7 linked regions of the Homo sapiens genome follow. The protein of the gene in region 7 purifies or fractionates together with the protein of the main gene of each other region. This does not show direct contact. Each region holds a gene or a part of one and is shown on either strand. Other genes may lie near its edges.

Region 1 (3,500 bases), on a different chromosome or scaffold from region 7:
ATAATTAAATTTTTAATTTTAGGAATTTAATTACAATTTTTTTAATGCACTTAGGTGGTTTACCTTTTTGATTCTCATAATCAAAGTAATACCTCAGTAAACCTTATGGATGAGATTTAACACCTCCCCCCACCAAACTCCTTTTATCCAGAACACCATCCTGGGCCTCTGTTCCACAGCCTCCTCCTGCAAAAAGTGGCCTCCATAGGGCAGCCCTCCTTCCACACATCTTCCACCGCCCAAGGCCAGCATCAGCTGAGCCCATAATGGTGACAGTCTTCTCCCCTGCAGGAACCCCCACAGGAAAAGAATCCATTGTGCAAGTCCACATTGAAGTTTTGGATGAGAATGACAATGCCCCGGAGTTTGCCAAGCCCTACCAGCCCAAAGTGTGTGAGAACGCTGTCCATGGCCAGGTGAGTCTGGTTCAGGTGGGAGGGGAAGGCAGCACCACCCTGGGGCAGGCTGGGGGGCAGAACTGCTCAACAGAGTCAGCAGGAGTTCCCCTGTACAATAGCCTTGAGGAAAATAACATTATGCCCATTTTACAGATGGAGAAACTGAGGCTCAGAGGGAATATATGGGGAGTAGATTGGCGGGGCAGGGAAGTAGAAAGAATGGCTTTATGAAGAACTAAATAGGTGAGTGTTGCAGGTGGGAAACAGCCATGGTCAGGACTTAAACCCAAAGGCTCCATCGCTAAACCTCAGACCACCCCACCACCCCACCACCATCACTGACCATCTCCTGTCTTCCACACTCCAGCTGGTCCTGCAGATCTCCGCAATAGACAAGGACATAACACCACGAAACGTGAAGTTCAAATTCATCTTGAATACTGAGAACAACTTTACCCTCACGGATAATCACGGTAGGCATCAAAGTAATCAGTTCAGCTGGGCGTGATGACCCACACCTGTAGTCTCAGCTACTCAGGAGGCTGAGGCAGGAAGATCGCTTGAGCCCAGGAGTTTGAGGCTGCAGTGAGCTATGATCACATCACTGCACTCCAGCCCGGGCGACAGAGCGAGACCCCGTCTCCAAAAAAAGAACAAATGCAGTCAGTTGGCTCTAACAGGGTCGGGGTGAGGTTATTTGAGTCTTGAGGCACCAAGGTCAAAGACCAGGCCAACAAATTGAGGGCAGGCTCCCACTGGGATTTTCAAATCATTAGATATTTTGTACAATTTCTGCCACATACATTGTACAATTGGTCTATGCAATGGTCAGAGACACTCCATCCAAACTCCCAAGTCCACGTCGCCTGCAAGGAGCCAGCGAGGAGTACAGAACAGATGTGAGGATGCAGGCAGTCAGCTCAGTTCAAGAACTAGCCAAGGAGTCCCCTCCCATACTGGAGGCTCTATGGGTCAGCAAAACTGCACATTAAACATGGAACTTTGAGGTCATTCCCAAAGAGTCAAAACTGGAAATGTGAAATCCTAAATCCCAAGGATCCAGTGAGCTTTGTTTTAATTCAGCTACAACGATTACTCACGATTAGCAGGGTGGCCCGTGTGATGGCATTAGCAGCCAATCAGAGCTTCTGAGGAGTAGGTGCTGACTTAAGTGATGATGCTGAGTTGACTTCATTCCAGCCACAAGTAGGCAAGCTTCCATGGCCTCTGAAATTTCCTCAAAAAAATAGAGAAAATTCCCCTTGGGTTTAAATAGAGTGATCCTTCACCTAGCATGGGATGGAATTCCTGCCTGTCCCTAATGGGCAAAACTATGGTGGATGAGGATGGCTGTATTGCAGCAGCCCATTACTACATTTAAGGAAGACTGGGGAGTGGGGTCCCTGAAAGTTGGAGGCAGACTTGAGGGATCAACCACAGACCAGTCCTTAAGGAGACTCCTGTGGGATGGAGAAGGTGGCCCTGATGTGTTGACAGTCAATGACAGACCATTCAACACCCAGTTGTCATTAGAAGTAAATAATGTGGCAAAAATGTCACCCCCTCCCCAATGTCCACCTCAGTCCCATCTCAGAGTGGGGATCTGCAATACAGTAGAAAGATTCAGTGCCACCCCAAAGACACCCATATACAATAGGAGGCAAGTCTGTTGGTGTCAAATTCACTTATATCATGAACATCCTGCATGTCAAAATCTCTAGTTTCTCCCATAAGTGTCAATGACATATAGTTTATTTTGAAATATAATAGACTTAATGCTGAAATGTAATTATGAATAATGAAATATAATTGGCTTTCATTCAAAATCGAAAAGATGGATTCCTGGGTTTTTCAATCCAGTGTGTGGAGCCTGTGTAGCTAAGTAAATCCTGGAGTAGGGAGTTCCTGGATCCTTCTCTGATCGTTGACATTACAACCTCCTGGGACCCTGCAAAAGGCAGATTATCTGGCCTCTGCCCAGAACCACTGAATAAGAAGTGTGTGTGAGCATAGGGGTCTGAAAATCAGCATGTTTTAAAAGCTCCCTGGGGGATTCTTGGGTACAGGAAACCACTGATTGGATCTGGGAAGGTGGGCGGGGCCAATATTTGGACAAAAGCATTTCCCAGTTCCAAACTGCCTGGGAAACCCGCAATTCTATATGTAATCATTTTCTCTGTGCCCCAAGGGACATGTCCATTGTTTTTACTGTTTTCAACAATGTAACAATGGATTTTCAGAGAGAGCAGAAGCTGCCTTAGAAATTAGCCTAATGCTAAAAGACTTTTTAAAACTTTATTTTTCCCCGCTGCTTGTCAAAGCTTGAAACGGAGCATTAATTAATTGAGCTGAAAGAGAAAACCTCCTGTTACTGGAGTGGGGTTAGGGAAGAGGAAGGGGAGAGGCATCAGTTGCCCACAAATACAGAAAGCAAAGGATTTGACCTTCTTTCACCAAGGCATCCTTGGAGATTGGGTCAAAGCAGCTGCCCCAAAATATCCCCTCTGTGGCGGAACAGACCTGCACTCAGATGGCTGAAACAAGAGGCGCTGGGTGCAAAGGGCAGAAAAGCAGCCCAGGGAGCACGCAGGCTGGTGCAGTCAGGGAGGGCTTCCTGGAGGAGCCAGGTTTCCCCATCTGTGCAGATGGCAAAGCCTGACTCCGAGGCCTTGGTGTTTCCAGATAACACGGCCAACATCACAGTCAAGTATGGGCAGTTTGACCGGGAGCATACCAAGGTCCACTTCCTACCCGTGGTCATCTCAGACAATGGGATGCCAAGTCGCACGGGCACCAGCACGCTGACCGTGGCCGTGTGCAAGTGCAACGAGCAGGGCGAGTTCACCTTCTGCGAGGATATGGCCGCCCAGGTGGGCGTGAGCATCCAGGCAGTGGTAGCCATCTTACTCTGCATCCTCACCATCACAGGTCAGTGCTGGGCAGGGTGGGGAGAAGACACAGTGGGTGGAAGGGGATGGAAGGTGTTGGGAGGCGGGGAGGCTTCACAGGAAAAGTAGAGGCCAGAGGTTCAGGCCCAACCCTGCCTCCAATCTGCAATGCAGCCCTTAGCCAGTTCATGTGCAGGATGCAGGATGTGAGCTC
Region 2 (2,884 bases), on a different chromosome or scaffold from region 7:
GGTTGTTTGCCACAAACTCATCCACAACAGCTGTGCCGGCACAGTTCAACATGGCCCCTGGCTCTTGGTATGCAGTTATTATCTAGTGAAAGCATTCGCTTTATTTTTTTTTTTTTTGAGACAGAGTCTCGTTCTGTCACCCAGGCTGGAGTGCAGTGGCGCAATGTTGGCTCACTGCAACCTCTGCCTCCCGGGTTCAAGCGATTCTCCCACCTCAGCCTCCCGAGTGGCTTGGACTACAGGCACCCGCCACTATGCTCAGCTAATTGTATCTTTAGTAGAGACAGTGTTTCGCCATTTTGGCCAGACTGGTCTCGAACTCCTGACCTGAGGTGATCGACCGCCTCAGGCTTCCAAGGTGCTGGGATTACAGGCGTAAGCCACCGTGCCTGACCCCCAAATCCAAATTTTCTAAAAGCTAAACCAGTAGGAATAGTTTTCTCCATCTGTAAGTATTCAATAACCAACACATCATTTGTTATAATAATAGTCCTGAGGCATTACAAGATGTTATAAGTTTATTCTGAATCTCATTCAATTGTGTTCAATGTGGCTCAATTCTTTACAAATTAAAATTCTTGAATATATGTTAAAAATTAAACAATCTTAATGTTTCTTCCTTAACTAGACTGGATACACGTCTGTTTAACTACGCAAAAGGTAATGCTGGCATGGCTTACTGGGACCCTAAGTGTGGCGAAGGGACTCTGCTCCAGTGAACTGGCGAGTGTGGAACCTCCTGACACCTTCTGAGGACCTCCTGCCTGCCATGTTGCTGTGGAGCTCGCACTCCTCAGGCATCCCCTGATGTTGAGTGATACAAACTCTATCACCGGAATCGATGCTGCTGCAATGACAAGACTTCTTTCTGGTTTTCAGATTCTAAAGTTTAAAACAACGACAACAACAGGAGCGCTTGAAAGTTACGGTGCTTCTCCCTCTCCAGTGTGGACTCGCTGATGTTTGGAAAGATTGGACTTGCTACAGAAGGTCTTTCCACAGTGATGACACCAGTAGGGCTTTTCCCCGGTGTGGATTCTGTGGTGTTTATTGAAGTTGGAGCTGTGGTTGAAGGCTTTCCCACACTCCTTACACTTATATGGCTTCTCTCCGGTGTGGAGTCTCTGGTGGGAGCTGAGGCCCGCATGCTGACTGAAGCTCTTCCCACATTCGTTACACTGATAAGGCTTCTCCCCAGTGTGGATCCGATAGTGACGAATGAGGCTGCCTTTCCCGCTGAAAGCCTTGCCACAATCTTTGCACTGATATGGCGCCTCTTCTGTGTGCATTCTCTGATGTTTAAGAAGGTCTGAGCTCTGCCCAAAAGCTTTTCCACACTTACAGTCATAGGGCCGGTCCACCAAGTGTGTTCTGTAGTGGAGGGTGAGGTTTGAGCTGTGGCTGAAAGCTTTCCCACACTTGGTGCACACGTAAGGTTTCTCCCCAGTGTGTGTTCTCCTGTGTTTGGTGAGATTTGAGCTATTACTAAAGGCTTTGCCACATTCAGCACATATATAACGTCTCTCTCCTGGGGTAGGTTTAGTAGGAACTGATTCTCTACCTTTCTTGGAGCCTGCCTCTTGAAGAGGGGGTTTTGTTCCTTTTTCATTTTCAAGGTTTACGCACTGCCTCTCTAAGCTGGCCTCAGGTTTATTGGCGATAATCACAGAAATTATATCCCCTTTGAGCCCCTCTGCTTCAGAACCTTTCTGCTCATCTGCTGATTCCTCGTGCTGGGTACTCAATCTGCAATCTGAAACAATAAGCAGATTAAGGATACTTCAGTTGTTTCTTGTTCTGAGGAAGAAACTGTTACCAGAGAGATAGAACCATCAGGTGAGACTGATGGTTTCTGAAGGGTGACTAAACAGAGCTCATGATAGCGCATAGATACAAGTAAATCAGCATCCAATCTAGTTTACAATACTGCACTTCTTTTTTTTTTTGAGATGGAGTCTCGCTGTCAGCAGGCTGGAATGCAGGTGACCTCAGCTCACTGCAACCTCCAACTCCCTGATTCAAGCGATTCTCCTGCCTCAGCCTCCAGAGTAGCTGGAATTACAGGCACGTGCCACCACACCCAGCTATTTTTTGTATTTTTTTTTAGTAGAGATGGGGTTTCAACATGCTGGCCAGGATGGTCTTGATCTCCTGACCTCAGGTGATCCGCCTGCCTCAGCCTCCCAGAGTGCTGGGATTATAGGCATGAGCCACCAGGCCTGGCCTCCATACCACACTTTCACACAATTCCCCACCCGAAGCTATTAAGATGTGAAGAGAACGTGGCTTTTTCTGCCAGAAAAACAGCTTCACATACAGAAGGCAAAATGCAGCATATGAGAGTGGTAGCCGGGCACAGCGGCTCACGCCTGTAATCCCAGCACTTTGGGAGCTGAGGCGGGAGGATGGCTTGAGTCTGGGAGTTCAAGACCAGCTTGGGCAACATAGGGAGACCCCATTTCTACAAAAAGTTAAAATAAAAAAATTAGGTGGGCATGGTGTGCCCCTGTGGTCCCAGCTACTTGGGAGACTGAATAAGAGGATCACTTAAGCCTGGAAGGTCAAGGCTGCAATGGGTCAAGACTGCAGTGAGCCATGATTGTGCTGGCCTGGGCAACAGAGTGAGACCCTATCTTTAAAAAAATATTTATTTTATTTATTTATTTTGAGACGGAGTCTCATTCTGTTGCCCAGGCTGGAGTGCAGTGGTATCATCTTGGCTCACCGCAGTCTCCGCTCCTGGGTTCAAGTGATTCTCCTGACTCAGCCTCCCGAAGAGCTGGGACTAGAAGCACCTGGCACCACGCCCAGCTAATTTTTGTATTTTTAATAGAGATGGGGTTTCACCATGTTGGCTAGGCTGGTCTCAAACTCCTGACATCAG
Region 3 (3,500 bases), on a different chromosome or scaffold from region 7:
AAAAGTGTCAATGTCAGGAAAGACTGAGGAACTGTCACAGACTGGAGGAGACAAGAGACACAACTGCTAAATCTAATGTGGGACTTTACTTGGATTCTGGAACAAAAAAAGAATGGTAGGGAAAAATGGTGAAATTTGAATAAAGTTTGTAGTTTACTTAATAGCATTGTGCCAGTGTTGATTTCCTGGTTTTGATAATTGTACTATAGTTATGTAAGTTGTTAACATTAGGGTAAAATGAATGAAGGGCATATATATACACAGATGAACTCTGCACTATTTTTGCAACTTTTCTGAAATTTAAAATTATGTCCAAATAAAAAGTTTTTTAAAAAGAAAAATATAGGCTGGGTGCGGTGGCTCATGCATGTAATCCCAGCACTTTGGGAGGCCAAGGCAGGCGGATCATGAGGTCAGGAGATAGAGACCATCCTGGCTAACACGGTGAAACCCCGTCTTTGCTAAAAATACAAAAAATTAGCCAGGCGTGGTGGTGGGCGCCTGTAGTCCCAGCTACTGGGGAGGCTGAGGAAGGAGAATAACTTGAACCTGGGAGGCGGAGGTTGCAATAAGCCAACATCACGCCACTGCACTCCAGCCTGGGTGACAAAGCGAGACTGTGTCTCAAAAATAAAAAAATTAAAAAAGAAAAGAAAAGAAAAATATAGCATCTTGTACAAAGGCCAACTTTAGATTCATCCCTGTTAAACTTTATTCAATCTCTTTAGTTTTTTTTTTTTTTTTTTTTTAAGACAGAGTGTCTTGCTCTGTTGCCCAGGCTGGAGTGCAGTGGCGCAATCACAGCTCACTGCAACCTCCACCTCCTGGGCTCAAGTGATCCTCCCACCTCAGCCTCTGGAGTAGCTAGTACTATAGGCACGCACCACTACACCCAGCTAATTATTTTGACCTTTAGTAGAGAGAAGGTCTCACTATGTTGCCCAGGCTGGTCTCAAACCCTTGAGCTCAAGGTATCCTCCTGCCTCAGCCGCCCAAAGTGCTAGGATTACAGGCGTGAGCCAATTCAATTCCTCAAACTGAGAAGTAAGAACCATACAATAAATAAGCAAATAAGCAAAGATCATTTAGAATAAAAGATTACCTAAAGCAACGTCTGAATCACATTATTTTTAAACCCACTTATTCAGGGCTCACACATTTCTCCAACATTTTGGCAGAAGAAAACTTTATGGAAGATAAAATTCTAGTTACTCTGAGTAAACCTGATCCTCATCCCTGAACTTAAATATGAGTAGTGAAGCTGGCAATAATCACAACCCAAATGATACCATAGGTTGGTCCCAAGAGGCTCAAAAATTAATAGGCCAAGAAATGGATAAAGGAGTTACATCTTTGTATATCTACATCTTTGAATCCTTGCAATCCTCATTTCCTCTCCTTTTCCTTCTTGGGAGAAAATTTCCATTTCTGTACTCCTATACCAAGAAATCCAAACTAAGAGGGACATCCTGGCCGGGCGCAGTGGCTCACGCCTATAATCCCAGCACTTTGGGAGGCCAAGGTGGGTGGATCATCTGAGGTCAGGAGTTCGAGACCAGCCTGGCCAACATGGTGAAACCCCATCTCTACTAAAAATACAAAAATTAGCCGGGTGTGGTGGTGCACGCCTGTAATTCCAGCTACTAGGGAGGTTGAAGCAGGAGAATTGCTTGAACCTGGGAGGCGGAGGTTGCAGTGAGCCAAGACTGCACCACTGCATTCCAGCCTGGGTGACAGAGCAAGACTCTATCTCAAAAAAAAAAAAAAAAAAAAAGAGGGACATCCTTACTTACTAGTATTGTAAATACTACAAATATTCAAAAGATCAAATTCTTCTAGGGTTTGAGTTCCAAACGACAGTACAAAGGATGTATGCTCACTGTTAACCATGACTATCTGTGGATAAATGGATGGGAGGCTCTTTAATTTTTTATTTTACACATTTTGTATTATTTGACTTTTTATAACAATCACATATCATTTTAAAATAAATTTATATATATATATGGCACAATGCCAGTCAATCATTAGTTATTTTAAACTAAATAATAGACTTTTAACAATTCAACTATAAACTGTTAGCAATTCAATTTCATTTGAAATATATCAAACTCAAAAGCCAAGAGTAAGGAAACTCTTGCCAATTGTCATTTAACATCATTTACTAAAAGTGTACTTTATCTAAATAAAGTCAGTGGAATGGTTTTGTGCCACCAGAGAGCACACAGCAACTGGAGGACGTGAGTTATCCACATAGTAAAGAAGTGAACATTTGTTTCCAAAGCAGGGTACCAACATGTGTGAATTCCAGTACAGCAAATAGAATATTTAATACCGAAAGTGTGTGGTATGGAGGAATCAGCAGATAAATGTTCTGGGGAGAGATAGCCTTTTGGCCTCCCATGACATGGCAGGGGGAGGGGGGAAGAGAGAGAGAAAGAGAGAGAGAGCGTGAGCTACTTCATGGATGGATCACCAACCCCACTTGCTATGCACCTGACCAGGACCACACCTTCTCCAATGGGAGCGGTGGGAGCCTCACTCCTCATGCACAAAGGGGAGCTCCCTGAATGATATCCCAAGGGGTGTCACCAGATCCAAACTTGCCCGTCATAATCCCATCTGTTATTCATATTTGCTGTCTATATTTTCTTTTGGTCTTCCCTTCCTTTGTAACAAAGTTCATTGTAAAGATCCCATTTCTTGTCTCAGCTATGCTAAGACAAGGAGATGGGTGGATAGGGAGGATCAGGTCATTGCTACAACACTGCAAAAGCATCTGACAGTCACTTACCTACTTGGTCATCTGTATATTCTGTATCTAGATATTTCATTTGTGGGTTTGTCTGTTTGTTGGAAAAGACTTTGTGTCAAGGTGCTAGTAGACTGAGCCCATCTTACACAATCACTTATTCAAAAATAAGGATGTCTATTCAGTGTCTACCATGTACCAGGCACTGCTGAGCATTATATACTGTTCCAATATTTAGAATCTTTATTACTCAGAGGCCACAGTATGAAACAGATTGGTTTGAAACATCAGGGTCTGGACACTAGGCCATTAAATGGCACCAGAATAGACACTCATTAAAAGTTTTCCTCCTCTGGGTGGGCATAGTGGCTCATGCCTGTAATCCCAACACTTCGGGAGGCCGAGGCCAGTGGATCACCTGAGGTCAGGAGTTTGAGACCAGCCTGGCCAACATGGTGAAACCCCGTCTGTCCTAAAAATACAAAAATTAGCTGGACATGGTGGCAGGCGCCTGTAATCCCAGCTACTTGGGAGGCTGAGGCAGGAGAATTGCTTGGTCTCACACTCCTGGCCGGGGATGAGGAGGCTTCAGTGAGCTGAGATCGCGCCATTGCACTCCAGCCTGGGTAACAAGAGCAAAGCTCTGTCTCAAAAAAGTTTTCCTCCTCATCTAAAGAAGTTAATATGTTTTTCGAAGTGGAAAGAGACTTGGAAGGACTTTCTTACTCATTGTGTAGCTTTAGATCCT
Region 4 (3,500 bases), on a different chromosome or scaffold from region 7:
TTTTGATTTGTTGGAGAAGCCCTGATCCAAAATTAGCAAATTAACTCAGCGAATGATGAAAATAATCTTTGTTGCTATTGGAAGGGGGGTAAGGCTGTGTGTGTGTGTGTGTGTGAGTGTGTGTATGTGTATGGATGGTGATGGGAGCTGGCTCTATTGAGTCTTTGACTTGAGGCTTTGGAGTTGGTTCGGTTCTGTTTGCAGCTTGAAACTGGAGTCTGTAGCCCTGAGTTGGGGGCCTTGTTTTCCAGACCTCAGCAGAACAAGGACTTTGCCTATCTCAGTATGAAATCAGAGAGTGGGGACAGATTATGTCTAGAGTCTTTTCAGCTATAATTTTCCAGTGCTCTCTGACAAGTGGCATAGTGCAGATGTTTATGGGCATGGCTAAAGATTGAAGGTGTTAACTGAATCATGTGAATTCAAAGCCATTTGGACCAAGAAGAATAGAAAAGAGGCCTTCAGGCTGGGCATGGTGGCCCATGCCTGTAATCTTAGCACTTTGGGAGGCCGAGGTGGGCAGACTGCTTTATCAGGAGTGCAAGACAGGCCTGGGCAACATAGTGAAATCCGTCCCTCAAAAAAAAAAAAAAAAAAAAAAAAACAAAAATTAGCTGGGTGTGGTGGTGCGTGCCCGTAGTCCCAGCTACTTGGGGGTTGAGGTGGGAGGATGGCTTGAGCCTGGGAGGTCGAGGTTGCAGTGAGCAGAGATCACACAACTGCACTCCAGCCTGGGTGACAGAGTGAGAACCTGTCTCAAAAAATAAATAAATAGAAAATAAAAAAGAGGCCTTTAGGAAACATTAACTGCCTCCAACGGTTTACACTTCCCAATAAACCAAAGAGGATTTTAAGATCTGGAGGTGTGGGGGAAAGACAGATGGTGGAGAAAAAAGATTTGCTTACAACCAGAAAGAGTGAGTCCTAGATCCATGACCAGTGAGATTTGCTGGTGGGCCCTGATACACTGGCAGGAGGCGCAAATAAAAGGGAATGGGCTTATATTATGGCAAAAGGAGTAGAGATTAGCATTAAGGAGAAGGCTGCCATTTTTCTTAGATAGTAGATTGTCTGCTAAGTGAAGTTATGAGATGCTATGGAAATTTATAGTCACTCTCTGGGGTTACTACCCAAGTTACTTGACTCACAGTCCATGCTTTTTCCAGTACCTTGCCATGGTGATTTTTTTTTTTTTTTTAATATGGAACACTTCACGAATTTGCATGTCATCCTTGCCCAGGGGTCATGCTAATCTTCTCTATATTGTTCCAGTTTTACTATATGTGCTGCAGAAGTGAGCACCACGGTGATTTTTAAAAAGCCTAGTTTTCAACCCAGATTATGTGGAAATTGACAAAGTAATTACTAGTACTTTCAAGTCCATAATTTTAGATAATTGTTCCCCTGTGATAAGCTGGGTTTTAGGTTGGGATTTTATCATGTGGAAAGATTTTGATTCTTCACTATGTAAGTGTTTTATCAGGACTGATGATAGATTTTTTGAGTAAAGAGACACACCTTGATTGGAGAGTACCACTTCCGGGGGGAAGAAGGCCGACGCATATTGTTGTTGAGATTTCGCGGCTCAGGGAATTCATATTCCTGCTCCGGCATCTTGACTCTTGCATTCTTTGCCTTTTCCAACTTAGCACCTTCTTCTGTGGAGCCCTTTTCTCCCCAACGAACCTAAAATAAACAAAATACAATGAAATGAAATGACAAAATATGCTGCCCCTCGAGAATGAGAATGACAAATACATGCATGAGTTGCAATGTGAATGCTACCCAACCCTGGATTCCTTTGGGTTTTGAGGGCCAGGGAAGAGGGAAACTGTGGAAAAAGAGAAAAGGGGAGGACCAAAGGAGCAGAGAGCTGAGCCACATGGGTGGATATTTAGGGAGGAATTGTCCAGGCAGCGGGGACAGCACATGCAAAGACCTTGCAGGTTCAGGTACGAACTTTGGATTTTATTCCAGTGAGAAAAGAAATCACGAGGACGTTTGAGCTGATGTGTGACCTGCTCTGACTCACGGTGGGCAAGACATGGAAACGCACAGTGAAAGGCTGTCCCTCCTATCTCTCCATCCGTCTGCCTTACAATCCATATCCCCACCAGACCTCAAGGAGGTTTTCAGCAATTTGCTTTGGGTTTCTGACATTGAGTCATCAGTGTGGTCTACGGCCATACTGCCCTGGGCATGCCTGATATCTAGAGGCTAAGCAGGGTCAGGCCCGGCTGGTACCTCGATGGGAGTAGTCAGCACATAGATAAGTGTATATGAAGCTGTCCTCTTACCTCCATTCTTTTAATGCCTCCAACGCCTCTCCCACCATAATAAGAGGCGTCTACCGTTGGCCACTTTTTCTTAGGCAGACCATCATCATCTTCTTCCTGCAGAGAAATTGTGGCACATGAAGGAAGCAAAACAGCACTGCTGTGTGGACCTGCCTACTACAGCCAAGTGATTAGGAGTAGAGCTTATAGAGTCAGACTGCCTGGGTGCAATCCCAGTGCTACTGTTTCCTAGAACCTTGGGCCAATCACTGAAACCACCTAAGCTTGTTTTCCTTATCTGTAGAGTGGGAATGTAAGCAGTGCTACCTGGTAAGTTTGTGGTACAGTCCTGTTCTCTTGTTCTCTTCTACAGCTCTACTCCTTTGTGGGAATCGCATCTAACCCCACCTACATGCTAATGACTTGTGACTTTACATCTTCAGCCCTGATGCTTCTGAACTCCAACTGCTCACTTGACATTCACATTATTTGGGGGCTAAAAAACATCTCAACAACACCACAGCAGAGATGTCCTGATTTCCCTACCCTAAACATGCTCCTCCTGTAGTCTTCCCCACTGCCTCTCTCTTCTTTACTGCCTCTCCCCAACTTGTCCCAACTTGCCAGCTAGTTCTGTTGCTACTACTTAAAGATCTAAAATCTGTTGACTTCTCCATCCCCACCACCACTATCCTGGGCCCAAGCCCCCATGCACTTGCTCATGGACACTGTGGTAGCTTCCCAACTGGCCTCCTGCTGCCCTAAGACTCACCTATGATCTGTTCTCCACAAAGCAGCAGAGTAAGTGCAAACGCCAGCTCTGCCCTGTGTGTTCTGGCCTTTGCTCACCTTTCTGGCCTTCTTCCTTATCATGTGCCCCCCTCCTCCTGAGCTCCAGCCTGCCTGCCCTCTCTCAAATACTCTGGGCAAATTCCTGTCTTGGGGCCTGTGCACAGTGTCCCCTTGTCCCCTTGTCTAGGAAAGCACTTCCCCCACCCCATCTTCTGATGGATGGATTTTCATATTACTCCTCAGAGAAACCTCCCCTGGAAATTTCTTCTAAAGTAGCCGCGGTCTCTTCATTCCATCAATCTGTTTTATTTTTAGTTAAGGATCTCATCATGGCTTGATATTTACTTAATATCTGTCTCTCCACACTAGAACGTACGTTCCACAGAGGCTTTTGTTTGTCATGCTTACAATTGTATTCCCAGTCTTTAGAAT
Region 5 (3,500 bases), on a different chromosome or scaffold from region 7:
AGTTACTTCAATGAAGAATAAAAGCAAATTTTCCCTGCCTTAAAGCTCCGACTCATTTCCCAATACAGGTATACCCTTGTTACATTGTATTTTTTACAAATTAAGCATTTGTGTCATGAACTATGCCCATTAAAGATGGTAAACTTTTCATCAATAAATGTCCTGAATGCCCACCAAACAGCCTTTCCCTATTTCTCTTCTCTCTCCTCAGGCCTCCCTGTTCCCTGAGACAAAACAAGATTGAAATTAGGCCAATTATTAACCCTACAATTGCATCTAAGTGTTCAACTAAAAGGAATAGTCCCCATCTCTCACTCTTCTTTAAATCAAAAGCCAGAAATGATTAAACTTAGCGAGAAAGTCATGTTGAAGGCCACGAGAGGCTGAAAGCTGGGCAGGCCTTTTGGACCAGCCAAGCTGTGAGCACAAAAGCAAAGTTTTTTGTTGTTTTTCAGCTTCTCATTCTCTGGCTGAAAAGTTCTTGAAAAAAACTAGAGGTGCTACTCCAGTGAACAGATGAATAATTTAAAAAGCAAACAGCCTTATTTCTGATATGGAGAAAGTTTTAGTGGTCTCTATAGGAGATCAAACTAGCCACAACATTCCCTTAGGCCAAAGCGTAACCCCAGAGTAAGGCCCTAATTCTCTTCAATTTTATGAAGGCTGAGAGAGGTCAGGAACCAGAAGTCATGTTTGAAGCTAGCAGTGGTTGGTTCATGAGGTTTAAGGAAAGAAGCCATCTCCATAGCAAAAATGCAAGGTGAAGTAGCAAGTTATCCAGAATATCTAGCCAAGATCGTAAATGAAGTTGGCTACACTCAACATTTTCAGTGCAGACAAAACAACTTCCTATTGGAAGAAGTAGTCATCTAGAACTGATAGCTAGAGAGATAAGTGAATGCCTGGCTTCAAAGGACAGATGGACTCTCTTGTTAGGGACTAACACAGCCAGTGACTCTTTTTTTTTTTTTTTTTTTTTTTTTTTTTGAGACAGGGTCTCCCTCTGTCAACCAGGCAAGACCGCAGCAGAGCTATTATAGCACACTGCAGCCTTGACCTCCCAGACACAAGATTCTCCCACCTCAGCCTCCTGAGTAGCTGGGACTATAGCACGCTCCACCATACCCAGCTAATTTGTTAATTTTTGTACAGACAGGGTCTCTGTATGTTGCCCAGGCTGGTGTTAAACTCCTTGGCTCAAGCAATCTTCCTACCTCTGCCTCCCAAAGTGCTGGAATTGCAGGCCTGAGCCACTGCACCTGGCCACTGGTGGCTAAGTTGAAGCCAGTGCTTCAATCCTAGAGCCCTTGAGAATTATGCTAAATCTACTCTGCCTGTGCTCTAGAAATGGAACAACAAAGCTTGGATGACAGCGCACCTGTTCACAGCATGGTTTACTGAATATTTTAAGCCCTCTGTTGAGAACTACTGCTCAGAAAAAAACATTCCTTTCAAAATACTACACCCATTGACAGTGCACTTGGTCACCCAAAAGCTCTGATGGAGATGCAGAAGGAGATTAATGTTTTCATGTTTGCTAATAAAACATCCATTCTGCAGCCTATGGATCAAAGAGTAATTTCAACTTTCAAGTATTATTTAAGAAATACATTTTTTAAGGCCCTAGCTACCTAGGTTCCTCTGATAGATCTGGGCAAAGTAAACTGAAAACCTGGAAAGGATTCACCATTCTGGGTGCCACTAAGATCATTCATGATTCATGAGAGGAAGTCAAAATATCAACATTAACAGGAGTTTGGAAGAAACGGATTCCCACCCTCATGGATGGCTTGGAGGAACTCAGGACTTCAGTGGAGGAAGTAACTGCAGATGTGGTGGAAACAGCAAGAGAAGTAGAATTAGAAGTGGAGCCTGAATATGTGACTGAATTGCTGCAATCTCATGATCAAACTTAAACGGATGAGCAGTTGCTTCTTACGGATGAGCAAAGAAAGTGATTTCTTGAGATAGAATCTACTCCTGGAGAAGATGCTGTGTATTGTTGAAGTGACAACAAAGGATTTAGAATATTAAATAAACTTAGTGGATAAAGCAGCAACATGGTTTGACTCCAATTTTGAAAGTTCTACTGTGGATAAAATGCTATCACACAGCATCACATGTTAGAAATATTTCGTGAAAGGAAAAGTCAATCGATGCAGCAAACTTCATTATCTTATTTAAAGAAACTGACAGAGCCATCCCAACCTTCAAGCAGCTACCATCCTAATCAGTCAGCAGTAATCAACATCAAGGCAAGAACCTCCAACAGCAAAACGATTATGTGTTAATGGCTCAGATGACCATCAGCATTTTGTAGTAATAAAATACTTTTTAATTGAGGTATGTACATTGGTTTCTTCTTAAGACATAATGTTATTGCAGACTTAACTATAGTGTATTATATACAACTTTTATATGCAATGGGAAACCAAAGTATTTGTGTAGCTCTCTTTATTGGGATATTTGCTTTATTGCAGTGGCCTGGAACCAAACCCACCTTCGAGGTAGGTATATAAACTACTAGAATCCACATGGGATCTGAAAATTCCCAACGGTTACATCTTGAAAGTTCATTTTGAAGTATGCCTAGTTAGTTAATAAAGCAAATTCAATTAAAATACATCAACTTTTTATGAGCTCCCCCGTCCCACCCTCACTTGCCTAATATACATACTATTAAAAGGGATATGGTTCAGTGAGCCAAGTATGACTTCATATGTAAGACAAAACATTTATTTTATAAATAGCTATAATCTAATTTTCATGCTGGTGGCATGTACCCACCTGTAGAGGAGTTCGATATAACCACTTCTCTTTATCAACTTTAAGCTGCATACAGGCAAAGAGATCACAAACTGCAGGGAGGCCATAATGGTCTGGGGGGAAGTTATGTTCCTCCTGTAGAGGTGAATTAAGTAATACTTCCTGCAATAAAAGAAAAGAGTAGGTTGCTTCATGAAAACAAGGAGGCATGAGACCAACTTATCTTCCAAATAGGGTCTACAGAGAATAATTTAAATGTTGGCCATTCTCTGTAACAACCAAAAACAAAGGTGACAATTGTTATTTCTACCCCAAATATTTTCCATAAATAGCAATAAAACAGGCTAGATTCTTTTCTTTCCTGAAGGATGGGGCTTAGGCCTGGAAAATGCACAAAAAAATCATAAATCCTCCATTCCAAATTTAGTATTTAACATATTTAAGGATCTGGCTGGCCGGTTTGCAAGGTTTGGGATTATGAAATATGAAACTCTAGGCTGGGTGTGGTGGATCACGCCTGTAATCCCAGCAGTTTAGGAGACCAAGACGGGCAGATCGCTTAAGCTCAGGAGTTCAGAGACCAGCCCAGGCCAAAACCCCATCTCTACCAAAAATACAAAAAATTAGCCAGGCATGGTGGTGCACACCTATGGTCCCAGCTACTCAGGAGGCTGTAGTGCGGGCAGGGGGATGGCTGGAGCCTCGGAAGGGGAGGTTGCAATGAGCTGAGATCG
Region 6 (3,500 bases), on a different chromosome or scaffold from region 7:
GCTCTGACCCAAACGGTGCCCCTGGGGCACAAGAGGGTGAGTGCTGGGCAGCAGGAACAGGGTAGGGCTAGAGGAACCTGGTCACTGGCTGGGTAACAGGCTCTGGGGCGCCCCACAAAATGTCTCTAAGCTGCTGCACTGGGCTTCCACACAAGCACGGTCCTCTGTCTGGCAAAACCCACTCCAACACCCACCCCATGCGCTCGAGAGCCCTGTGTGCCTTCCAGTGTGAGGAGAGGGAGTGCAGGCTGAGAGGACGGGAGGGGCCTCGCACCAGAGCCACAGGGCGGTACCCCACATGGGGGCCAAGAGGGAAGTCACAGCAGAGGACCCAACTCAGGGGTCACAGGACTTTCCCCATCAGCTTCAGCCTCATAGCCACTATGAGCAGAACCAGCAGGACCCCAGGGCACCCCCACCCTGGGGGGCCTACAATCAGCAGCTGGGCCCCCACGGGCCCCAAGACCACCAGCACCCCCCGCCCCCAGCCCAGAGCCTGAACATCTGGCTTATTTCACAGAGGGAAGCTGAGGCTGCAGGGGATCCCCTCCCAGAGATCACAGAGCCAGGGAGGGGCAGGACTCCCCACCACTCCCAGGGCAACTACCATGGCAGAGATGGGAGGCCCCCTTCCTAACACTGGGCACCGGGCTGAGAGCTGCAAGCCCTGGCCAGCCCCCGGCCCAGCCCCACTCGCGGGCACACATGGGCTCAGGGGAGCTGCATCGGCACCAGCCTCTGGTGCCGGTTATGCACCCCAGGACCCACCACTGCCCACTGGGCCTCTGGGGTGTCCAAGTATCCCCACCCTTCAGTCTCTCCGGGAGCTTCCTCCACACCAGGCCAGCCTGGTGCCCACCCCAGCCCAGGCAGCTCCCCTCCACCCACACCCTCCAGGAAGCTCTGCACTGCCTCTGTCCAGCCCACTGTTCTGGGGAAGGAAAGGAGAACCCTGAAGACCAGACAGCCATCCCTGTAGCACCTAGCCCTCCCCCTGCCACCGTGGGGCCAGCCCAGGGCTGTGTGCTGGAGCTCCTCAAGCACCAGCCAAAGACAGGCAGGGGCACTACCCTTGCCCTGCCCTTGGCCCAGTAGAGGGGCTGGGGAGAGGCAGGGCCAAGGCCTCTGGCCCGGCAGAGTGCTGAGGCAGCAGACACTGGATCTCCTGGCTGGGGAGCAGGGCCCAGAGGGGAGGGGGCCGCGCAGGCCTGCCCTCACCACCCACACACAGCAGCCTCCCCAGGAGGTCAAGTGCCCTTGGAGAGCCAGCCCCCGCCTCAGCATCCCTGGGCCCCTGCACAGGCTCCTGCGTGGTCTCAAAGTGTCCTTGCTTAGTGGGCCTGGGGCCAGTCATGGGCAGAGGCACAGAGGGGAGTGGGGCCCTTCAAGGTCACTGGGCCTAGTGTAGGGCAACATTCCCCCTGCCCCCTGTACGCCAGATCTAGCCTCCCACAGCATACAGCAGCACTGGGCCTGCCACCTGGGACGGCCGCAAGCCTTTGTTCCTGCCCCAAGCCCCCTCCTCACCCCACCCCACCCAGGCCTGACCTTGCGGATGCGGCCACTTCGCGTGCCGGCGAATACCACAGTGCGGCCCCGATAGTCATAGGCAGCCACGGCGGTCAGGCCATCATCCTTGTCCACGAACAGGGGCGTCCCCTCAATGGTGACTGTGCCCCCCAGGGGCTGGTTGAAGTCCTGCCCGCAGAAGTCGTCATCGATCTGCAGGGGCTGTGGGAAGGGGCAGGGTGAGAGCCACTCCCCGGGCACCTTCTCCCGGAGGACTGGGCCTCCCTGGGCAGGGCTGGGAGTGCAGTTGTCTTTCTAGAGAGGTTGGGGGTAGCCCCCAGAGGAGAGGTGCAGACAGAGAGGGTTTAAGACAGGAGGGAGCAGATCACACCTGAAAGGCAGAGGGCGGGCTCCCAGCTAAGAGCACGAGAAAGCAATCAATAGCTTGAGGTTCCGGAGCAGCTGGGGGCCAGTGTGGAGGGGGCGCTGCTCCACCGCCAGGCCTAAGGAGAGGGCAGGGCAGGCAGGGAAGGGATGTGGGGAGAAGTGGGGCAGATGGTCCTTGTCTGCAGAGGGTTCATTGGCAGGGGCCAGGCTGCTCAGGAGGAAGGAGCAGGGGAGGCTGGGCCAGGGCTAGGCCACATGGAATGAACAGGTGGGAGGGGGCAGTGGGGACTGTCCCCAGGGATGAAAGAGCAGGCCCCAGCCTTGGGGCAGGGCACAAAGAGAGAGTGTGGTGGGGCTTCACCCAGGCTCTGCCCCTACAAGCCTCAGTGTCTCCATCTGTATGGTGCAGAGAAAACACGTTCCTTGAAAAGCCAAGGGGAGGGTGGACAACCGCATCTGCCAAGCACACATGGGCCCTGCCTCACACAGGCAGTGAGCGTGAGACGGAAGGACTGAGGGGCCCTTGCAGTCCCACTCTGCCCTGAGGACAAAACCAGCAACACCCTCAGGTCAGACATGGGAGACTACAGCCAGAGAGGGCGAGGCCTTCCCCTGCGATGGCCAGCGACCCCCAGCAGCAAGCCCAGAAGGCCTGGCCTCGGGGGTCCCAGGTCTGGGCCGAGTCCCAGCCCCTTCACTTTCCACCCTAAGCAAGGCCCGTGCCCTCTGAGCCTGCCCAGGAGTGTGAACAAGACACTCCCTGAAAGGCAGCGAGATAGAGGCCCCACCCCAGCTGTGCCTTCTGATGGGTGCTGGGGGCTGTGGCTCCCTGCAGTCAGGGTCACTTTCTCTGCAAGTTGTTAACTGTGGCCTGCACCAGGACACCATCAGCTCCCATTGCTGGGCAAAAGCAGAGGCCCAGCGGGCAGGTGCCACCAGGGTCATGTGGGGGACACAAGCGCTCCATGGAAATGGTGTCTGGGCTCACCTGATAGGCTCTGGCACCAGCCTCTCACTTGCTGTGTGACCCAGGGCAAGTTACCCCACCTCTCTGATCCTATAACCTCATTTGTAGGATGGGGACAAGATGGAGCAGGCAAGCACCAGGTGTAGGACCAGGCATGTGGCTGGCACTCTGTCCAGTGTCCCACAGGGGCTGTGGACTATGCCAGCAGGGCCTCGTCACCCCATCTTCTGAGGCACAAGACAGCATCATGGCTGGGAGCAGCCTTTGGGGCTAGCACCCTGGGTCCAAACCCACTCTCTGGGGGATGGAAAAGGGCAGCCCCACCTAGCTGAGCCATGGGGATGGCCAAGCCAAAAGCCAGGCCAGGCACACAGCAGGCACCACTGGGCGTGCATCTGACACCGATGCCGTCGTCCCTGGAGGGGATGGGGCCGCGGGAGGAGGGGCGCCCCTGCCCAACTCACCGAGTTGATGCAGCCCAGCTCCTTGTTGAGCAGCCACGGCAGGGAGAGCTTGCCCTCACCACGGTAGCAGGACTGGATGCGCTCCTTAATCTTCTCCTTGATGGCCCTGAGCGTGAACAGGCACAGTGCTGACTCCTTTGGTGGCTTCACGCGGTTCTTCTGGCCCTGGGCGA
Region 7 (3,500 bases):
TCTCCTAGGTATTAAGCCCAGCATGCATTAGCTATTTTTCCTGATGCTCTCCTTCTCCCCAACCCACAGTAGGCCCCAGTGTGTGTTGTTCCCTTCCCTGTGTCTATGTGTTCACATTGTTCAGCTCCCACTTATAAGTGAGAATGTGTGGCGTTTGGTTTTCTGTTCCTGTGTTAGTTTGCTGAGGATAATGGCTTCCAGCTCCATCCATGCAGCTGCAAAGGACATGATCAGATTCCTTTTTACGGCTGCATAGCATTCCATGGTGTATATGTACCACATTTTTTTTTATCCCACTGACCTTCTATTATGAAAAATGCCTCCACTTTTGCACAGCCAAGAACACTGCATGCCTGGCAGGTGTAGAGGCCTTCGTCCTCCTTCCTCACTCTGCGGATAGTGAGGTTCCGGTTCCCATCCTTCAATACAATGCCTAACAGAGGAAGAAAACGATCATTCTCATTTATGATGATGTAGTCTGTGAAGTTTTTCAGGGAAATTTAGAAAATATAAATGCTGCCCTTCATCTTGTTCTATTATCTAACTCTGTAGAGTCACATGGGATCTACTGCTGACTAATCTCCTATATGGCTTTCATGAAAATTCAACAGGGCCCCATACTCCAATTCTAAGTCTGTGAAATGAGCCAGGTCATGGACACCAATACTGCTTTTTTTCTACATTACATCAAGAAATAATATGGCTTTTTAGATAACATCCCTGGGAAAGTTCTGCAACCCAAGAGTGATAGCCAAATTCTATTTACCTGAGTCTTCTACAAGGGTCTCATTATCTTTAAACCACATGATCTGTGGAGGGGGATTCCCAGATGCCGTGCATGAGACTTCGATGCTTTCCCCAATACTTGTCGTCTGATTCTCCAGGTTTCCTGTGATCGTGGGTGCCACACGCTCTAGACACACAAAAAGAAAATCACAGAACATGGAATTATAACTTTTGAAATGGTTCTGGTATCAGCAAACTTTTAAACAGTTTAAATTTAGTAAAAAGGAACTTGTTGATATATTAACTTCTGGGAAAATACACTGGTCACTGGGTAAAGTTAAATGAAACAAGTCAGTCAGGACACTGCAAACAGATTAATGGCTTTTAACATTCATATTAGTGATACTAGCTGGTAATCCCATCACAAAAGAAAGGTTCAGGGTCACCTTTATGGATTTTTCCTCTAATTAGACACAGCCTCCCCAGGTGAAAACTTCCCTCCCATGAAGATTCTAGTCAATAATACCCTAGAATCCCTTCAAATTTCTCTTGGAAGTGCCAAATTTTAGTATCATTCAACCAATAATGCCTTACATTTATTTGGCAATTCTTATAAAACTTGTTTACACAATTTGTGTTCCTCACTAGTGATCTTATGTAATGAGCAGAATAGGACTGTTAGCGTTATCTCACAGATGAAATAAATGATGTTCAGCGACATTAAACCACTTGTCCATGTCCCTGCAACTAAGTAAACAGTTGAACTGTTTACAGAATCTGGTGAGGCTAAAAGACCAGTTCAGTGCTATTTCCACTAAAACACAAACAAAACAACAATACCCTAAGGGAAGTCTTGGATTTAAAGAAAATGAAGCCCATGAGTATTTGTTTAAGTGTACAAGAACACTTTAGATTTATTCTTTCTTCAGATCATCAAAGTGCTGTGGAAATATCTTGTCCCAACCAACTGAACATCAAAAGGAATCATGCTGAAAAAATCCACGTCAACACTTAGCAAAATGAGATTACCTCAACAGCGTACTACATTGAAGTCTAAGCAAATGTACTGGATTCTAGCCTATTTCTAAGAATAGGTTTTAGGAAAACAAGTTAGGAGTCCTTAGGGAAGCAAAGCAGCTAACTGCGAGCACATATTTTCTGGGCACAGCTAGGCCAGGAGCCTACTTCACATCTCTTTCTCAATTCTGCCATAACCTTGAAGCCAGACAAGCCAACAGAAAATCCATGTGATCTATGTGGTGTGACTTGAAGGATGCTGGGGATGACTTGACCCCAAAGTATCTCTTATTATGACACCTGAGTCTTAAAACTAGCGAACTTTATGCTAGTGTCTGTCAGAAGGTGCCTCTTCAAATACGCCAAGGCCTCTGATGAAGACGTTACCCTCTAAAACTGTGGTATAGATGAATTTACTTGGGCAATTTCCTTCCTAACAGTAAAAAAAAAACAGAGGGCACATATATCCTAGGAATTGGAAAGGGACACCACAAGAGGAGAAAATGGAGAGAAGTGGCACAAAGAGACGCTCCCCAAATTTGCCTGATTTTCCCACAGACAAAGCCATGGCTGCCCAGCTTTTGCACAAGGCATGAGGTTAGACAAGGGGTAGACAGTGCCTCTATGGAGGAATTTACAGAGCTATCTGCTCACTGAAGTGATCGTCCCATTGACCTTGGGCTACGCTGGATCATGTGGGATGACCCAGAGGTACAGACAGTGAATGTAGCTTCCTTCCCATGGAGTCTTCTAGGTCTTAAACGCAGCCCATCATCCCACTCTTCATGCAGCAGGTGCCTTATTGAGCAGTTAGTATATGCTGCTATGCTCTATGACTAGAGCTATAGCAGGGAGCAAAACAGAGAACAATTCCTGTTCTCATGGACACAGAGACCTCACTGTGCTGTGACTTCCCAGTGGTTGCCTATGTTCTCCTCCTTTCCTTCATGTTTACCACTGTGAATTTCTGACACTCTCCTAGCTCATAGCAGGCATTCCACAAATATTTGTCTATTTAAATAAATGGATGCCCAAGATAAGGCAGAAGTTTCCCTGGTTCAAGCTAATATCCCTTGCATATACTAGTGAATTACTCCATCATCAGGTTTTGTTATTTTCTCCTTTCGATATATCATTTCATTATTATTAGCTTCTTTCTTCCTCAAGGACTTTCGGTGAAGAAGTGTGCACCAGTTTACAACATAATCTCCTAGAGGACAGTAATCTTTGCATAGCACCTGAATTGCACTACATTTAAGGCATTCCAACTGCCTCTGCACAATGATCCAGAATTGTCTCCCTACCTAGGACTGTGAGCTGCCTGACCACGCAATGTCTTTTCTTGGTCTTCCTGTCTTGAGCAAGGCAGACATAGTCTCCTTGGTCCTGCAAGGATGCATTCTTAAGCTCCATGATCAAAATGTCATTTGTGCTATTAGAGAACATGGTGGCATTCAATTTCCAAAGAGTATCCAAGTTCTTGCAAACAGGTGTGGGCAACTCTCCCACATGGATTGGCAGAGGCTGTGGGCCAAGCTTGTACCATGTGAGGTTCTCAAACGTAGATCTGTCTGCAGTGCACCACAAAGACACGCTCTCCTGCTCAGTGGGCTGCATGTCAGGTTGCAAAGTAATTTCAGGACCCCCTAAAATGAAGAGGCCATAGTTATTGAATGGTGATTTAACTTGGTACAGCTCACTATCATCTTGCTGCTTTCAGACTACTACAAAGTACCAAAAGAAATGAAGCTCTATCC

What was found.
Region 1: the proteins of KDR (region 7) and CDH5 purify together in Homo sapiens (affinity purification with western blotting; 3 studies listed by BioGRID and IntAct, with this or other methods). This does not show direct contact.
Region 2: the proteins of KDR (region 7) and ZSCAN21 purify together in Homo sapiens (affinity purification with mass spectrometry, with the first as the bait; one large-scale study listed by BioGRID). This does not show direct contact.
Region 3: the proteins of KDR (region 7) and SCUBE2 purify together in Homo sapiens (affinity purification with western blotting; one study listed by BioGRID). This does not show direct contact.
Region 4: the proteins of KDR (region 7) and ANTXR1 purify together in Homo sapiens (co-immunoprecipitation; one study listed by IntAct). This does not show direct contact.
Region 5: the proteins of KDR (region 7) and NCOA4 purify together in Homo sapiens (affinity purification with mass spectrometry, with the first as the bait; one large-scale study listed by BioGRID). This does not show direct contact.
Region 6: the proteins of KDR (region 7) and PLXNA1 purify together in Homo sapiens (affinity purification with western blotting, with the first as the bait; one study listed by BioGRID). This does not show direct contact.

Annotation. Positions count from the first base shown.
Region 1 is NC_000016.10:66,397,691-66,401,190, forward strand, and holds part of CDH5 (cadherin-5 preproprotein), read left to right. Parts: intron 1-291; coding exon 292-416; intron 417-765; coding exon 766-871; intron 872-3,080; coding exon 3,081-3,326; intron 3,327-3,500. UniProt on the Homo sapiens protein: Cadherins are calcium-dependent cell adhesion proteins. They preferentially interact with themselves in a homophilic manner in connecting cells; cadherins may thus contribute to the sorting of heterogeneous cell types.
Region 2 is NC_000007.14:100,062,657-100,065,540, reverse strand, and holds the end of ZSCAN21 (zinc finger and SCAN domain-containing protein 21), read right to left. Parts: intron 1,754-2,884; coding exon 924-1,753; coding exon of another isoform or gene 890-923; 3' UTR 754-889; coding exon of another isoform or gene 629-753; 3' UTR 501-628; downstream 1-500. UniProt on the Homo sapiens protein: Strong transcriptional activator. Plays an important role in spermatogenesis; essential for the progression of meiotic prophase I in spermatocytes.
Region 3 is NC_000011.10:9,085,100-9,088,599, forward strand, and holds part of SCUBE2 (signal peptide, CUB and EGF-like domain-containing protein 2 isoform 4 precursor), read right to left. Parts: intron 1-3,500. UniProt on the Homo sapiens protein: Lipid-binding protein required for SHH long-range signaling by binding to the dually lipid-modified SHH (ShhNp) and by promoting ShhNp mobilization, solubilization and release from the cell membrane.
Region 4 is NC_000002.12:69,180,679-69,184,178, reverse strand, and holds part of ANTXR1 (anthrax toxin receptor 1 isoform 1 precursor), read right to left. Parts: intron 2,394-3,500; coding exon 2,298-2,393; intron 1,687-2,297; coding exon 1,519-1,686; intron 1-1,518. UniProt on the Homo sapiens protein: Plays a role in cell attachment and migration. Interacts with extracellular matrix proteins and with the actin cytoskeleton and thereby plays an important role in normal extracellular matrix (ECM) homeostasis.
Region 5 is NC_000010.11:46,006,624-46,010,123, forward strand, and holds part of NCOA4 (nuclear receptor coactivator 4), read right to left. Parts: intron 2,929-3,500; coding exon 2,788-2,928; intron 2,590-2,787; coding exon of another isoform or gene 2,524-2,589; exon of another isoform or gene 2,501-2,523; intron 1-2,500. UniProt on the Homo sapiens protein: Cargo receptor for the autophagic turnover of the iron-binding ferritin complex, playing a central role in iron homeostasis. Acts as an adapter for delivery of ferritin to lysosomes and autophagic degradation of ferritin, a process named ferritinophagy.
Region 6 is NC_000003.12:126,989,615-126,993,114, reverse strand, and holds part of PLXNA1 (plexin-A1 precursor), read right to left. Parts: coding exon 3,328-3,500; intron 1,732-3,327; coding exon 1,549-1,731; intron 1-1,548. UniProt on the Homo sapiens protein: Coreceptor for SEMA3A, SEMA3C, SEMA3F and SEMA6D. Necessary for signaling by class 3 semaphorins and subsequent remodeling of the cytoskeleton. Plays a role in axon guidance, invasive growth and cell migration.
Region 7 is NC_000004.12:55,101,596-55,105,095, forward strand, and holds part of KDR (vascular endothelial growth factor receptor 2 precursor), read right to left. Parts: intron 3,390-3,500; coding exon 3,048-3,389; intron 914-3,047; coding exon 767-913; intron 434-766; coding exon 302-433; intron 1-301. UniProt on the Homo sapiens protein: Tyrosine-protein kinase that acts as a cell-surface receptor for VEGFA, VEGFC and VEGFD. Plays an essential role in the regulation of angiogenesis, vascular development, vascular permeability, and embryonic hematopoiesis.